Linked DNA regions of Homo sapiens: region 1 is linked to region 2. A link means that fine-mapping ties the variant in region 2 to the expression of a gene that starts in the linked region. Tissue or cell type: testis. Region 2 holds a variant in brackets; the other region holds the start of a gene. All regions are shown on one strand. Distances are from middle to middle.

Region 1 (8,096 bases), 300 kb after region 2:
GAGGAGATAATATGTGTGGGATTTCTTTGGCTCAATCTTCATACTATCTGACCCCTCTCCAATACCCCAGCTTGTATTTTTGCAGTATAATTTAATGGCACATCCTTCCTAATCCTGCCATTTTGCCTAATTCCAAACTACCTTACTTTACTCACCCCGAAGCACTCCCAGCCTTGACCTCTTGTCCCAGTTTCCTAAAATATAACTGCTCTTGTACGGAATGGTGCCGCTGGACTAAAACTCTGACGAGGAATTGCTGTTCTTCAAGGTCTGGTCTGTATCAGGGAGCCCACGCCCTGCAGTTAAAAGTGTCATAAAAATGGACTGATAAGTAGCTAGAAGCAGAATGCTGTGTCTACACAAATTACACTGCATTGCAGGGTACAGTTTGGAAGTTCAAGCAAGAATTCTTTATGAAAATGAATGAGCTTACCGTAGCTTGACTGAGGATATCATATACTTAACAGTCACTGGTAGAGCACTGCCTAAGAGTGTGGGTATTTTATGTGCATCCCAGTGACTCCTTTGAAGTGTTTCTTGATTCTTTTCATTAGGCAAGATGAAGTCGTCTCTATGGCCATGTTGCTGGCTTTTAAAAAGATGCACATTATATGTCAGCAACTACAGTATAATGCATTTACTTTGTGTGAGCACAGCAAACCACTTAAGAACACACTTTATTTTGTAGACACACTGAATTTACCCTTCAAGTACTGCCCCATGCCACAGAACTACAAGTCTTGCCACATTATGGCTTTCTCTTATAATTATGCTCTTTAGCCTGTTCATGTATTAAGAATAAATTAGGGGCCGGGCGCGGTGGCTCACACCTGTAATCCTAGCACTTTGGGAGGCCGAGGCAGGCAGATAACTTGAGGTCAGGAGTTCAAGACCAGCCTGGCCCAACATGGTGAAATGCTGTCTCTACTAAAAATAGAAAAATTAGCAGGGCATGGTGGTGGCCGCCTGCAATCCCAGCTACTCAGGAGGCTGAGGCAGGAGAATGGCTTGAACCCGGGGAGTGGAGGCTGCAGTGAGACAAGATCTTGCCACTTCACTCCAGCCTGATTGAAAGATGAAACTCCATCCCAGGAAAAAAAAAAAAAAGAATAAGTTAGGTAAAGAGAAGAAAATAAAGTGCAAAAGTAAGTGCTTCTTTTATGTGTTCAGCACAGCCTTTATTCTGTGAGGTCAATGTCTCTCTTACAGAGGAAAGAAGTGAAACATTTAGCCTGAATCCTGAGAACCAGGAACTTCTCAAACATCTTAGTTTGCCCTCTCCCAGTGTAAATGAATTGCACACTTTCTGAAGTCACTTTTGTATTTCTCCATTGCAGACCACTTTGTACCTACCTGTTTAATCAACATCTTCCCCTCTTGAGTCTTGGTAGGGTCTGGATCTTTCAGCTCTGTTGGATGCTCATGAAGTGTAACCAAAGTTTCCCTTCCTTTTTTTTTTTTTTTTTTTTTTGAGACAGGGTCTTGCTCTGATACCCAAGCTGGAGTGTAGTGGTGCGATCTCAGCTCACTGCAACCTCCACCTCCCTGGCTCATGTGAGTCTCCTGCCTCAGCCTCCTGAGTAGCCGGGATTACAGGCGCCCACCACCACACTCGACTAATTTTTGTATTTTTAGTAGAGATGAGGTTATACCACATTGCCCAGGCTGTTCTTGAACTCCTGGCCTCAGGTGATCTGCCAGCCTCGGCCTCCCAAAATGCTGGGATTACAGGTGTGAGCCACCGCGCACGGCCAGTATTTGTTCAAATGATTTCTCTCCACTTAGGGGAGAGAGAAAAATAGGGCTGGACTACCTGCACTTGGCAAGGGCAGAGTGGCAGAGTAGACTTGCCTACCAGCGAAGCCAGACAGCCTTTGGTTCCAATCTTAGTACTACCACTTTTCAGCTGAGGAACCCCAGCAAATTGTGAGGCCCCCGAGCCTCAGTTTTCTTATCTGTAGAATGGGGATAATGATGCTCTCCTCATAGGATTGCTTAGCGCTGGGTAGGTCCTTAAGGAATGTCCATTGCACTCCCATCCCTCTACAGCTTCCCCCAGATTCTGTCCTCTTAGGAGGCATGGGTGTCACTGGAACATGAGGAAGAATTCCCTGGATCCTTTTTTCCCTTTCCTCACACAGAAGCCAAACCTCAAATACACATCTTCCCTCTCTGTCCACACCCACAGCAGCAAAGAGGAGAGCCAGGGATCTGGGGGTGGGGGTGGGGGCCCATCTTCCTCCTCTCAGTGGGTGGGGGCTCGCAGGCTGACTGGCAGAGGACCTTCACTGGAGTCAAAATAAACTGCCTTCCTGGGGAGGGGATAGAGGGCGAGAGAAGCCGCAGGTATTGTTTTGTGGGGGAGGGGGGTCCTCTTCCTATTCCATTTCACTGAATTCTTCCCACCCGGCATGGCCCTGGGAGGTGACCATAGCCCTGGCTCCCCGAGTAAACACCCAGGTCAAGCTACAGGACTGACTGGGTCTTAAGCTATTATACTCCCAGTGAAAAGATTTTTTTAGCCCGAGGACTATCTCGAACTCGTTCTATCTCAGTGAATGACTCACTGGAAACGGTGTAAACACAGGTGTATTACTGGCCTGCGGAAGACTTGGATGTCCCAGCATGGTAGAAGGCCAGGTCCCTGCAGTGCAACGCTTGCATTCTACATCCAGAAAACTAAAGTTCAAAGAGGTTAAGCAATTTGCCAGAATCCTGCAGTCCAGGGACTGAGCGGAACCTGGAATCCGCCACCGGGACTTCCAGCCCTGCTCCCTCCGGCGCCACCCTCTTCCCAGAGGTAGGGAGAGCTGAGGCTCGCTGTGCTCACGTGGCTTTCAGAGCCCGCCTCGGACCCTGACCTGTATTCCACTCCCGACCCCACACTTCCTCGTTTCCCCTTCCTTCTCCCTCTCTTCCCAGGGTCCCGCAGGGCCGGCTGGATGAAGTGATGCCGGGCACCTATACACGCATGATGGCAAAAGGAGGATTGCAACGCCAGAGCTCGCCCCTCCAGAGCTGTGCAGGGTCCCCACCGAGGAGGGGGTGCAAACGGGTGCTGGGCTCGGGGGTCAGCCCGCGCCAAGTCTGGGGCTGGGGGCGGAGCCTGCCGGTCCGGGGCGGGAGGGTGGGCAAGAGAGGGAGTCCCGGGGCCTGGAGACTTTGGAGGAGTCGGGGCCCTGGGGGTAGGAGACCGCCGGGTGGGAGCGGCAGGCGCAAGCCGGGCGGCGGGGCGCGCGGGCCAGGCGGGGCCGGGCGGCGGCAGGGACTGCGGAGGTGCGGCGTGAGCTGGGGCGGGCGGCGTCACCGGAGGCGGAGGGGGCGGAGCCGCGCTCACAGCTGCCACCCGGCCGCCGGGCCCAGGCAGAAGCCACCCGCCCGCGGCCGGGCACGCACCGCGCGCAGACCTTCTGCGAACAATGCTCCGGCCGGGCGGCTGGCGGCTCGGAGACCGACGGAGGGGCCGGGGGAGCGCAGCCCAGAGGTGAGCCCGCGACGCGCTCTCCAAATTCGGCCTCTTTTTGTCTGGCGAGCGTGGTCGCAGAGGGGAGCTTTGGAGGGGCGCTGCGATCGCCGAGCGGGCTACCCCCGGGGTGACAGGCGACCGCTCGGGAAGTGGGCAGTGCCGGGGCCGCGTGAGCCCCGGGTGGTGCCCGAGGTGCAGGGAGGCGCCCGGCCGGGAGGACCGAGGAGCTGGAGGGTGTTTTTGATTCATTCGAGAATCGCGCTCTTTAAAACGGGGAAACTTTCCTACGAGTTCCAGGAGGGAGGACCGACTGTTAGGATGGTTTCTCTGGTCTTGCTGCTCTGTCTGCGGCCGGAGGCTGAAGCGCTTTGAGGACTGCTTTCCACCGCTAGAGTATTGTCAAGGGGGAGAGACGGAAGGCCGCCTGGCTGCTGGGACCAGGACCCGGGGGGATGGTTTGGGGGTGCAGGGTATGCAGCAGCGGGGCTCCAGAGGCAACGAGATGATGCCCTTTTCCCCGAGCCCTGGCTGAGCCCTCTGAAACGCATGCTGTGAGCACGTTATTAACCTTTGCTGGTATCCGGGGACACACACACTTAGAACATAGAATCCTCTGCTGGGCATGGAGGCGGCCGGGCATTCGCAGCGGAGAGCGCCAGCTCACGGTGTGTGCGTTTCTCTCAGGTAAGCTCTCCCTGCACATGGTTTTGCAGAGCCGATAGCAAAGCCCAATGGTCTAGGGGCGAGGAGTTTTGGCGATGCATTCAGTGCGGAGTCAGGCTCAGAAGGCTTTCCTGATCACTGGCCTGAACTATTCTTAACAACTCCTCTCCCCTTCCCTTTCTGAGAAGAAAATTTGACAGAAAGCCCTAGGGAATTCCGCAGTTATTTTTCTCTCCTGAGGTCTGGTTGGTTTCGACTGTAGTGGGTGCAAAACCACATTCCTCCCTCTGAGATTTTCTTTCCTCCAGCACTGGAGGAAGAAAAAAGAAAAGGAAAAGTTGGGTGAATATCGTAATTTACCCTCTGCGTGAGTAGGGAGGCAGGGGGCTAGTGGGTGGTAAAGTTGTCACTTTCTCCTTTCTGCCTGGTCAGCCCTGGCCAGTGGAGTGTGCTGAAGTTCAGACACTTTCCACACATATTTCTTTCCTTTTACTGGCGTTGCATTAATTTAACTGTAACATACAGAAAAAAATTTTAGGTGAATGTTTTCTGCAATTCTGTCACTTCAGAATAAGGCATAAGCAACTTCTGATGTAAGTCTGAGGGGGTATTTTGGGCCAAAATATTTAATCTTAAAGATCTGGCCACCTTGATTCTTCAGATTCTTTTTTGAAATGGGGTGGGAGTGTATCTGACAGCTTCAGTCTTGCAAACTGTAGCCACAAATCTAGTGCAGAAGTTTGCAGAGGCAAAGACATTTTTTTCATGACTTGGATCAGAAAGAATGCTGAGCTCTTTTTTCTAATCTGACACTGCAGCCTCCTACTGAAATGGGGAGGATTTGCATAATTCTGGGGGCTGCCTCCCCTCAGAAGTAAGGAATGTGGGCTGCGAAGTGCCTTCCCCATGCTGTGGAGAGCTGGCACTGCTGCACCAGGCAAGGCGAGGCAAGGCTTTGTGGGTGCCACTTGTGTTTCTCACCATCTTTTACTTAAAACAAATAGGAGATAATTCCAGGCACAGAAGTGCAACGGGAAAAGAGGTTTTTTTTTTTTTTTTTTTTTTTTGGCTGCATGCGGTGGTAAATTCTGTTTGCTGCGACTGAGAAACCAGTTTTAACAGGATGCAGTGAGTCAATGACAGTGGGAAGCCCAGGGCTTCATTTGTTCTTTTCTTATTCAATGACTTCCCTTTAAAAATCTTTGCGTCCATCCGTCCCTGGCAGTCGTGTGATGAAAGTTGCCTCTCTAAACATCCAAGGATTTCTGAGCTGAGAATGGGAGCAAAGAGTGCTCGTAAACTGATGAGACATTCTCAAGGAAACTTCCCCCACGCTAGCAATCCAGATCCTTCCACACTCCCTTTGCACAGGGCTGTGCAAAGGTTGGGGAATCTTAGAAAGTAGGGCCTCTGATACCAATGTCACCCCTTCCGCAAAAACAAGTTTGTGTTCTTACTTGCCTGTTGAGGAGGCAATAAGTCGCCAAGCAGAACTGCTGCTTTGTGAATCTGTGATAGACCCTGAGGAAGTGGTTGGGCACCCACCTCCTCAGATAGCCCAGTGTCAGGAGGAGCTGTGGGAACTTGCAGAGCCCACACAGAGCTGGTTTCCAAACTGTCTTCCTCCATCCCGCGGAGCAGGCATGGGAGCATCTGCCTGCAGTGGAGGTGGGCTGGACAGTGTCCTTTCTGTGGCCTAGAAGGTGTAGACAGTCTTCACCCATCAGCGTCCCAGGAAGGGACCTACTGCCTATTCCTGAAGGCTGGAATACTTCCTCTGCTTTTTCCCCCTCCCAAAACTTAGCAGCAAGGCTACAGTTCTCTGTGGCCTGAGATTATAAGAGAAAGACAAAACCTGGCTATTTCCTCCGCTTGTTGAAGCCCAGTGACCTCTTCTGGAGAACTTGGCAAAGAAGGAACCTGCTACTTGGGTGTATTTGGAGGAGGAGAAGAACCTAGCTAACAGTCTTCTTAAAGAAAAGGACCTGTGAGACCCTAACAATAACTGCTAAAAGATACTTTTCTTTTATTTCAGAGGATTTATTTAGCTTAAAGATGCAGTGGGCTTTATTCTTAACTTTTTTTTTGTTTTTTTAGACAGGGTCTCACTCTAGTCACCCAGGCTGGAGTGCAGTGGTGTGATCATGGCTCACTGCAGCCTTGACCTCCTGGGCTCAGGCAGTCCTCCTACCTCAGCCTCCCAAGTAGCTGGGACCACAGGCATGCATGGCTACACCTGGATAGTTTTTTTAAATAATTATTATCTTTGTAAAGACAGAGTGTCTCTGTGTTACCCAGGCTGGTCTCAAACTCCTGGGCTCAAGCGATCGTCCTGCCTCGGCCTCCCAAAGTGCTGGGATTACAGGCGTGAGCCACCGCGCCTGGCCTCAACCCATTTTTCACTTTGGAGGGAAAAGAGGCACACGTAGCTTCAGCACTTGTTGAATGAACACCCCTGTCTATGAGTGTGGAGATAAAAGAGAGCACTTCCCACAAACACTCTGGAATGATTTTTGGGGTACCCGGCTCATTCCACCTGGTTAGTCCTGTTGACAGTTTAGAGATTATCAAACTTAAGGCAGATCCTTATGGGAGGAAAGTGGAGAGAAAACCCTAAGGCAAAATGGTCCCTATTTAATGAGAACCTATTCACCCTTATGTTCTTAAGGAAGATTTTGCTCTTGAACATTCTCCTTATGGGAAGTCAGTTTATTTTAAATAGGCTAAGAAGAGCCAGGAGCAATGCGCAAATCACCACTGCAGGGAGGAGCCGCCTGCAAAGTTGGCTTCTGTTTCTAGAATGGGCAAACTCTCCCGTGTCTATGGGCTGGTCCAAGTTCTTGTGTTTGCCATAGTTTCCCCACCTGTAAAATTGGGACAACAGCTACCTGATGGAATGATTTCAAGGTAATTGGTTAATGGCTGCAACTCTTTGAGCTCCTTCTCAGTGGTGAATTTACAAGGGACCATGGTGCAAACTGTTACTTGCAGTTTTACTCTAAGAAGCAATGAATTTTTTGAGCAAGCCAATTGCCTTCTCTCCAGAGCCATCACTTGGAAATAGCTCTTCGTTAATCTCTTCTCTCTCTTATCATCTATCCAGCCACCTTTGACCATGAATTTGTCTTACTACTGGTTTGCCCCTTTGGCCTATAACACCCAGCATTGTGGACCTCAGCAGCACACGGTCAAGTAATGTATATTAAGCAAGGGATATTTCTCAAGATGCCAGACTCTGCATAAGGTCTAGAGGACAGGCCAGCACCCCACTTCTCCCGTTTCCCAACCATTCCTTTCTCCACCTGGTTGGAAGTGTGGATTACAATGCACCTTTCAGGGCCTAAAGCTGCCTCCCCTCTCACACAGTTCTTGGTCAAACATTATTTTCCAAAAGCCATTGTTTTTATTTGCTGTACTGCTTGACAGTTCTTGTTTCTGTGGGTCAGCGTCCCAGACTCTAGGCCCCGGTGTCAGGGAATACATGGATGACGTACCAGCTTCTCATCTTAAACCCTACGTGATTTCTTCCCATAACTGCCCAAAACCTCCCAGGATTTTAGGGGACTCCCCACCCAGGATTTTAGGGGACCGAAATGTCTTTTATTTACTCCTTTAAAGCAACAAGGCTATGTTTAGTTTTTACAGCTTCTGATAAGGCCACACCACCAGAGAATGTTTAAGAGCCTTGTGACAAATGGGCGAGGGTCCCAAAATAAATGGGATCCTAATCTTTACCTTTTTCTCCTCCTTCTCCCTGATCAAATAGTGAGACTCTAATTGATAATGCACCCATTGTCTGGCATGGCAAATCTCTAATCAGGAAACTGTCCTGCCTTTCTAGGAAGCCGCTCTGTGACCCACCTCTGAATCCCACAAAACTGCACCAGAGAGCCGGGCGCAAGATGAACCAGCACCCTGTCGGCTCAAGATGCACCAGACCCTCTGCCTGAACCCCGAGAGCCTGAAA
Region 2 (8,086 bases):
GTGGCATATTGTGATTGGGTTGGACAGCACAGAACTAGATGCTAACAGCTGGGGAAGAGGAAGAAGTGGAACTGGAAGGCTGAAATCCATTGACAGTCTGTATGCAGAATAGTCATCTCTTGACAGCTGAGGGTGGGAGGCCGGAGAGGGAGGATCTGTATAAAAAACAGAATGAATGCTCGGTAGTGAGAAATCTATTCATATAACCCGTTATATTAATTAAAAAATACTAACAGATTCTTTTTGTAAAATTTAAAATCAATTTTTAAACTTTTATTTAGGTTCAGGGATACACTTGGAGGTTTTTATGTGTGTAAATTGCATGTCACGGGGGTTTGGTGTACAGGTTATTTAATCACCCGGTTAATAAGCATAGTACCTGATAGACAGTTTTTCGATCCTCTAAGATTCTATTTTGTTAACATTCAACATGAACGACTAATTAAAACAACAACAACAACAACAACAACAAAAACCCGTGGTGAAATAAAATAGAGGGATATTTCCCTCAGTGGTAAAGAATATTTACTTAAATCAATGATCAACTTTATAAGTGGTTTAATAGCAGAAGCATTCCCAGCAAGTTCAGAACTATTTTTTAAGCATTGAGCTGGAAGGGCTAACCAATTAAATTAGATAAGGGCCTACATTTAAGGGTAAAAATATTGACAGGAAGAGGCAAAATAGAAAAAAGATCCCATTTACAATGGTGGTGACAAGAAAATTAATAGGATTTCAATGAAGTCGTAGTAGATTAAAAATGACTACAAATTATTTGCCACTTTGCTTAGAAAGAGGCTGAATCTAATTCACCCCTCAATGACTAGGCTTGGCCACGTGACTTGCCTCGGTCAATGGGACACCGGCAAGTATGGCGTAGCAGAGGCTTGATAGTTGCTCACGCATTGGAGCTTGTCCAAGTAAAAAAGCTAGTCTAGTGCGTGGAGGATGAAAGGAGGCTTGGAAGAGGACCAAGGTACCCAGCTGCCAGCTCGATCCAAGGCTCCTGACAAGTCCATCTTGGTCCCTGCACTGCAGCCAGCTGAATGTAGTCTCATGAATGAGCCCAGACAAGAACATCAAATGATAGAGAAATGATATATAGTCAATCATTAACTTTGGGGATAGACTGTCATGCAGCAATAATTAACTGATACAGAAGAAAACTGCTTTAGAATCCCGGAGTTGTAGTTATTTTGGAAATCATCTGATGGCCTTGCCTTACAACAAAGGGATACTGGAAACTGGGAGTAGACAGTTTAAGAGAGGGGATGACATGGGCAGGTTTAAGGCCAGCAATTTCATCTCCATTTATGCATTAATTTAGTAATTCTTTCATCAAGCATTCTTTGAATGCTCACTGAGCTTGGTGCTCAGAAAAATGGAACAGGCTGAGTTCAGAGGGAGAGACAGGCATAGGAGGAAACAGCCATGATATCAAGAGATAAACAGTATAATAAAAGTATATGCAGAGGGCTGTTTCCAGGGACATGGGGCCAAAGTGGGAGGGTCACTGAAGTGACATTTGGACTGGGTCATAAAGGATCAATAAGATTTTATGAGTCAGAGAAGGTTGGGGAAGGACATTTCAGGCAGAGACAGGAGTAGCAAAGGCCCAGAAATGTCTTAGTGTAAACCAAATCAAGGAAATGGTAGGGGGTATGGACCAGTCTCTAGCCAGGTGATAAAAGGACATGATTTAATTTGACTTTTGTCCTTGCAGACCTCATTCTGCAAATCCATTGTGGATTGCCTTCCAAGGAATCTTGATTTCAGCTAACTCTTCACCACCCTTTTTGCAACAGGTTTCAGCTAGGACCTACAAAGTGAAAAGGACACCTCCTATAATATTTAGCTAGACGGTTCAGAATTTATACCTTGTCTCGTCTTTGCTGTTCTGTCTTTAACATAATGTAAGTTTCACTGCTGATTCATTTTATCTTAATAGACAGGTAAGCATAATTTTGCACATGACATTTGGAGATGATCTGCACTTGGAAAATGAACTGATTTGTTTTCTTCCCTGCAGAACATGGGAAAGGAGAACTCTAATAGGTTACAACCAGTTTACTTCACCAGCTCCCCCTTTGGCATTGAAATAAGCGTTTTGACTTCTTTGTAATATACCTGAATATCATTTATTAGAATTTGACACAAAGACAAGTGTTCTTCATTGTTTGTATCTGTAACTAGGGAAATATGTTTTCTGAGAGTTTTAACATTCCAATCCATCATCTAGCTAATCCTTTTAATCCCTGTAGATAAGTAAATAGAAAAAAATGTATCAATCATTATTTTTATTTTTACTAGCCCACATCCTCATTCAGAGGTTGCACTGTTGATGATATTAAGGCAATCATGTTCTTTTTTAAACACCTGACTCATTGCTTGTTTCTAGTTAATATGGAAATAAATGGCGCTCTCTCTCTCTCTCTTTTTAATAAAAGGCTGGCTTGTGCTGTTCCAGTGCTTACAGTGAAACTGAATGTCAAGTGAAGCCATCTGAAAATAAAAAGGGACCAGAAATCATCTTGTCTCTTTATTTTGTGACATGTTTCATTCTTCTCTTTCCAGCAACTTTAAAAAATTCATTCAGTTTGCTTCCATTTCTGTTATTTTAAAAATATGTCCTCTTGTTTCTTTGATTTTCTTAAGTAGCATAAGCCACTCCTGCCTGTAGACACACACACTCATTCTGCCTTGTTGTGCTGGGCCGTCAGCAGGAACCACTCTTAACTCTAGCTCCATGTGAGCTCTCTTCCAGGAAGTAATAGAGCTGGGGAGCTGGTACTTGAAGGATGAGACTTCACCAGGCAGTTAAAGGAGAAAAGCGATCCAGGCAGAGGAAACAGTGGGAGCTAAAACCTGGAAGAGTAACTCCTGAGGGTCATGAAGTTTGTCCTACTATAAATGTACAAATGTGTGTGTGTGATCTCACCATCGCCATCACTGTGACGCTGCTGAGGCAGGTTCAGAAAAAACTTGAATGTCACGCTGGAGGGTGTGGTCTTTATTCTGCAGGTGAGAGAACTATGAGTGGTTTTAAAGCCAGGTAATGCCATGCCCTGATTTGGTTTTGAGCCATCACTCTGTAGCAGAACAGAGAGAAAGGGGGGCTGGTTAGGAGGCTATTTAATTGCGGTGTATCACGTGACAGATGTTAGACTTGGAAGTCAGTATTCCAGAAGAGAAGAGCAAAAGTAATGTGGTACTGGGGGTGGTGGTTAGCCTGGGGACTGGGTGCATGGCGAAAGCCAAGTTTCACAGCAAGACAGGGAAAAGAAGGTGTGTGTGAATGGCGAGGCCAGGGACAGGGACGTGGGAGGGGAGGAATTTGGCTTTGGATATTTAGAAAGTTCAGGGAGGAAGATTGCATAGATGACTCTGAGATCTGATAATGGATCAAGGTGAAGTCTGATGCCTTTTGTTTGCTTGCTCGGTTGCCAGCATTTTTAGACACTTGTTTATCTGTTTGGGTGTTGTCTCTTTCCACCTGCAGCTCCCTAGATGTTTACGGTCACTTTTCATACATATATATATATATATATATATATTTTTTTTTTTTTTTTGCGACGGAGTCTTGCTTTGTTGCCCAGGCCGGAGTGCAGTGGCATGATCTCGATTCACTGCAACCTCTGCCTCCAAGGTTCAAATGATTCTCCTGCCTCAGCCTCCTGAGTAGCTGAGATTATAGGCACATGCCACCACACCCAGCCAATTTCTGTAGTAAAGACGGAGTTTCACCATGTTGGCCAGGCTGGTCTTGAACTCCTGACCTCAGGTGATCCTCCTACCTCAGCCTCCCAAAATTCTCAAATTACAGGCATGAGCCACCATGCCTGGCCAACTTTTCATTTATAACAATGAAAGTTTCCCATTGCCTTTTTTTTTTCTTTTTGCTGAAATGTACTCTTCTAGCATTTAAAGTCAAAGTGAATACAATGTCAGGTTAACCCACTTGAAAATAAAAGCAACCAACTGCCATAACAAGACTTAAAAAATAATATAGAGCTGCTGCTTTTCCTCTCTCTCATGTTTTATTTTTACCCTTATGATTTTCTCATAATCACTTTGATTTTTTTCTTCCAATATTCTTTTCCCATCTTCCCACTTAGAAGGAAGCAGTAGATATTGGGGCATTTTTCCTGGTCATTTTCAGAGCATTGGTTCTGCACTGCAGGGTTAGTTACCTACCACCTACCTAGGAGATGGGGGAAGTTACCTCCCCCTCTCTCAAGCTGTCTCGGGGAAATAATTAGAAACTCAGATTAAAATTTTCATTCCCATAGCTTGAGCTGTGAAACAACAAGATACATGACAATATTCTTGGAATATCCTTACTCATAAATGTCAGAAAATGCCTTCCTTAAAAAATAGAAATGTAAAAATTTCTTCTTTTTATTGCAACACTTACCTATGGGCATGTAATAGCCCTCACTGAATAGTTGTTGAATGAATTAAAATATAAATTATTCACTTTTTTAAATTATTATTATTTTTGAGATGTAGTCTCACTCTGTCACCCAGGCTGGAGTGCAGCGGCACAATCTCAGCTCACTGCAACCTCC[C/T]AGGCTGGAGTGCAGTGGCGTGATATCGGCTCACTGCAACCTCCGCCTCCCGGGTTCAAGCGATTCTCCTGCTTCAGCCTCCCGAGTAGCTGGGACTACAGGCACATGCCACCATGCCCAGCAAATTTTTTACTTTTAGTAGACACGGGGTTTCACCATGTTGGTCAGGCTGGTCTCAAACTCCTGACCTCAGGTGGTCCGCCTGCCTTGGCCTCCCAAAGTGCTGGGATTACAGGAGTGAGCCACTGTGCCCGGCCTAAAATCTAAATTATTAAAAAAAGGTTTATGAACTCTACGAATGACTTCTCCTTTTTATTACACAGCACCACTGTTGTAACAAAATGATGTTAGTTTTAATCTCCAAACCAGTTCCGTAAAATGCTAAAAACTCATGATGATTCAGAGACATGTTGACTGTCATCTGCCACCAAATCACCATTTAAAAAGATAAAGAGTCCTATATTAGATAGAAAGAGGCCTCATATAGAGTATTTCATCCCCCAAAGCAGGTGCTCATCAAAATAGATTCTAATAATTATGGACTCTAATTCAGTGGATGATAGGCTTATGTTACAGCAATCAAAGTGCCTTTTTTCAATTAGTGCATGTCAAATAGAATAGGAAGGTTTGGGCTTCTCTGTAATGACATGGTTATTACCGATTTCTTAGAGTGTTGCAGTAATGGGCCGAGCGTGGTGGTTCACGCCTGTAATCCCAGAACTTTGGGAGGCCGTGGCTGGTGGATCACGTGAGGTCAGGAGTTTGAGACCAGCCTGGCCAACATGGTGAAACCCCATCTCTACTAAAAATACAAAAATTAGCCAGGCGTAGTGGTGCACACCTGTAATCTCAGCTGCTTGGGAGGCTGAAGTGGGATAAGTGCTTGAACCCAGGAGGCAGAAGTTGTAGTGAGCCAAGATTGCGCCACTGCACTCCAACCTGGGCAACAGGGCAAGACTCTCTCTCAAAAATAAAAAAATAAGTAAATAAATAAATAAATAAAAAGGACGTTGCAGTAATGTAATGTTTTCCAACATTATTTTAACGAGGTTCAGCTGAATCAAGTTACCTATCCATGGTTTGGCGTCAAATCAACACACCTGGGGCAGGTTCTAAATTTGTCTACATTATTTTTCTTTACGGAACTTTCCAAACTCTTGCTAGGCCACAACATGAACCTGACAATTGTTTCTTTCTGAGCGAAGATCCTGTCAGACAAGTGAGCCATTGAGACTGGAACCCGCTGTGGGTTTGTGTGTTGTATGTTGCAAAAGGCAGGGTCCTTTTTGCATAACGGATCCTCCTGAGACTGAGGCTGGACTTGAGTTTGTTAGTCACAATTTTCATTTCCGTAATGAAAAACCACTTTCTTAAAGACAACTTTATTAATCAGAGAGTGGAATTTCAGATTATAGAGACAACTAAAGATTTGGATGAATTTTAGCATCCATTCTGTCTATAGTAAAATGAAGATGCTGTACCTTCCATATACCATTTCCTGGGTGCCAGGCATTGTGCATAGTACTTAGCTCACATCAACTCATCCTATTCTTTTGCAACGGGGTGTGAAATGTGACTTTTCCTGTGCCCTCCTTGTGTTTGGCAGAGGCTTCAAAGCTCAACCACAGCAGGTGCCAGACCATCTCTGCAGAACCAGTTTGGCCACCATCACTCATCATGCTCCTCCAGGCTCCATAAGAAAAAGTGCAAAAATTCCCTAGGAAGATCAGGGCAGAGACATCCCTCTAGAAAGAGTCTTCTGCCATGGTGTGGCCTCCCCATTTTCCCGGTATCTCCCAGGGCTCTTTGTACAAGGCGGGCTCTGCAGAGAGACAGTAAAAACCAACCTGATTCTTCCTCAATATCATGGCATGTATTTTTCCAATAATTGCTCTTCTCTGTCCTTGGATGAATTTCTGAGTTCATTGATTTACCTATCACCTTCAGATATTAAAAAATCTGATACATAGTTGAAATGCCAACACACATTTATTTTTTATTTTTATTTTAAAAAATATTTTTAAAGTAAATACATAAAGACATAGGCTTGCTGTGTTGGCCATACTGGTCTCAAATTCTCAGCCCTGAGCGATCCTCTCGCTTTGGCCTCCTGAATTATTGGGATTATGGACACGAGACACCGCACCCAGCCCCAACCCACATCCAATTCACCACAGTGTTTCCTCTCCTTAGACGCATCCTGCCTCCAGCTAGGAGGTCTACAGTGTGGCCAGGCCACAGTTAACTTCCTTCCTATCCCCTCATCTGTCTTCCACTAGTCCTTTCCCCGAACTTACTGTGCTCCTTTGGGGTTCAAGGGAAGAGAGGAGAAGTGTTGAGGGGCTGAAAAGGCTGTCTTTGACTGGGGCAGTGCTAATCTGCCCACACAAGTGTGGCACATGGCCACATATGGATTGTGTGTCTCCTGGGTCCCTCTTGTGGGGATCTTGGACAGCCCCATTGGGCACAACCAATGATCATTCCTGGGTTGGCCTCTTCAACTTCTATCCACTCTGACTCCCTGTAGGTGGGGATTACTGCTGCCACCTCCCCTCCTCCCAAGATGGTCTTCTCAGATGGAGTCTCCTTCTTTCTTTCTTTGGCCCAGATCAAGGCCATCTGGCCCATGGAAGTCATAGCCGCTGTGATGCCCCTGGTGTGGTGCTTCTAGCTCCTCCTAGAGCCCACTCCTCCCTCTGCCTCCAGGGAAGTTCAGCCACAGCTTCTCGCTTTCAGCCTTTTTATAAAACACAAGTGAGGCTGGGCATGGTGGCTTACACCTATAATCCCAGCATTTTGGGAGGATGAGGTGGGAGGATCGCTTGAGGCCGGGAGTTTGAGACCAGCCTGGGCAACATGGCAAGATCCCCTCTCTAAAAACTTTTTTTTAATTAGTCAGGCATGGTGGTGCACACCTGTGGTCCTTGTTCCTCAGGAAACTGAGGTAGGAGGATTGACTGAGCCCAGAAGTTCAAGGCTGCGGTGAGCTATGATCATGCCACTGCACTCCAGCCTGGGTGACACAGTGACACCCTGTCTCTAAAAAACAAAGCAAAACAAAAACCATGAATGAGACACCAGTCCATGCATACTCTCCACACTTCAAGTTTTCCAACATTTTCTAATATTTTCTGGTTTCTCTCTGATCTGAAGCAGGTGGGTTGCAGAAGGGCACCCCTTTCCTTACCTGCCTCCTCCCATTTGGGTGAACTGCATGGCACCCCAGCAGCCCTCCACAAGGACACTCTCCCTGGCAGCCTCTCTAGCACATCTTATTAATATTCTCTTTTATATCTTGAGAGGAGTAATTGGCTCATTCGGCAATGGCGGCAAATGGGTTTGGGGATAATTCTGCAAGTCTTGTGGAAATGGCCAAAAGCCTGCCTGAAAACGTGGTGGTGCTTGACACTTCTTGTTTTCAGTTTTCGGTCCTTGGTCCAAACTCTGCTAACACTTAATCTGTGGATTAGGAGTTTACAAATGTCCTTTTTACAAATGTTGAAACTAAGACTCAGAAA

What was found. PIP is the estimated chance that this variant, and not a neighbour inherited with it, causes the effect.
Region 1: PRAG1 starts here. The variant in region 2 is fine-mapped to the expression of PRAG1 in testis (GTEx, PIP 0.97).

The regions. Positions count from the first base shown.
Region 1 is chr8:8,381,709-8,389,804 of GRCh38, reverse strand. It overlaps PRAG1 (PEAK1 related, kinase-activating pseudokinase 1), which reads left to right and starts at 3,366. Exons shown (of 6, transcript NM_001080826.3): 1 at 3,366-3,484; 2 at 7,971-8,096. The coding sequence starts at 8,058. It overlaps LOC105379222 (a long non-coding RNA gene), which reads right to left and starts at 241. Exons shown (of 3, transcript XR_002956679.2): 1 at 156-241. RefSeq lists a silencer at 2,984-3,663 and an enhancer at 7,702-8,096.
Region 2 is chr8:8,680,501-8,688,586 of GRCh38, reverse strand. It overlaps LOC105379225 (a long non-coding RNA gene), which reads left to right and starts at 1,314. Exons shown (of 3, transcript XR_948927.4): 1 at 1,314-1,681; 2 at 1,806-1,913; 3 at 2,448-2,526. The variant C/T (reference allele first, on the strand shown) is at 4,569.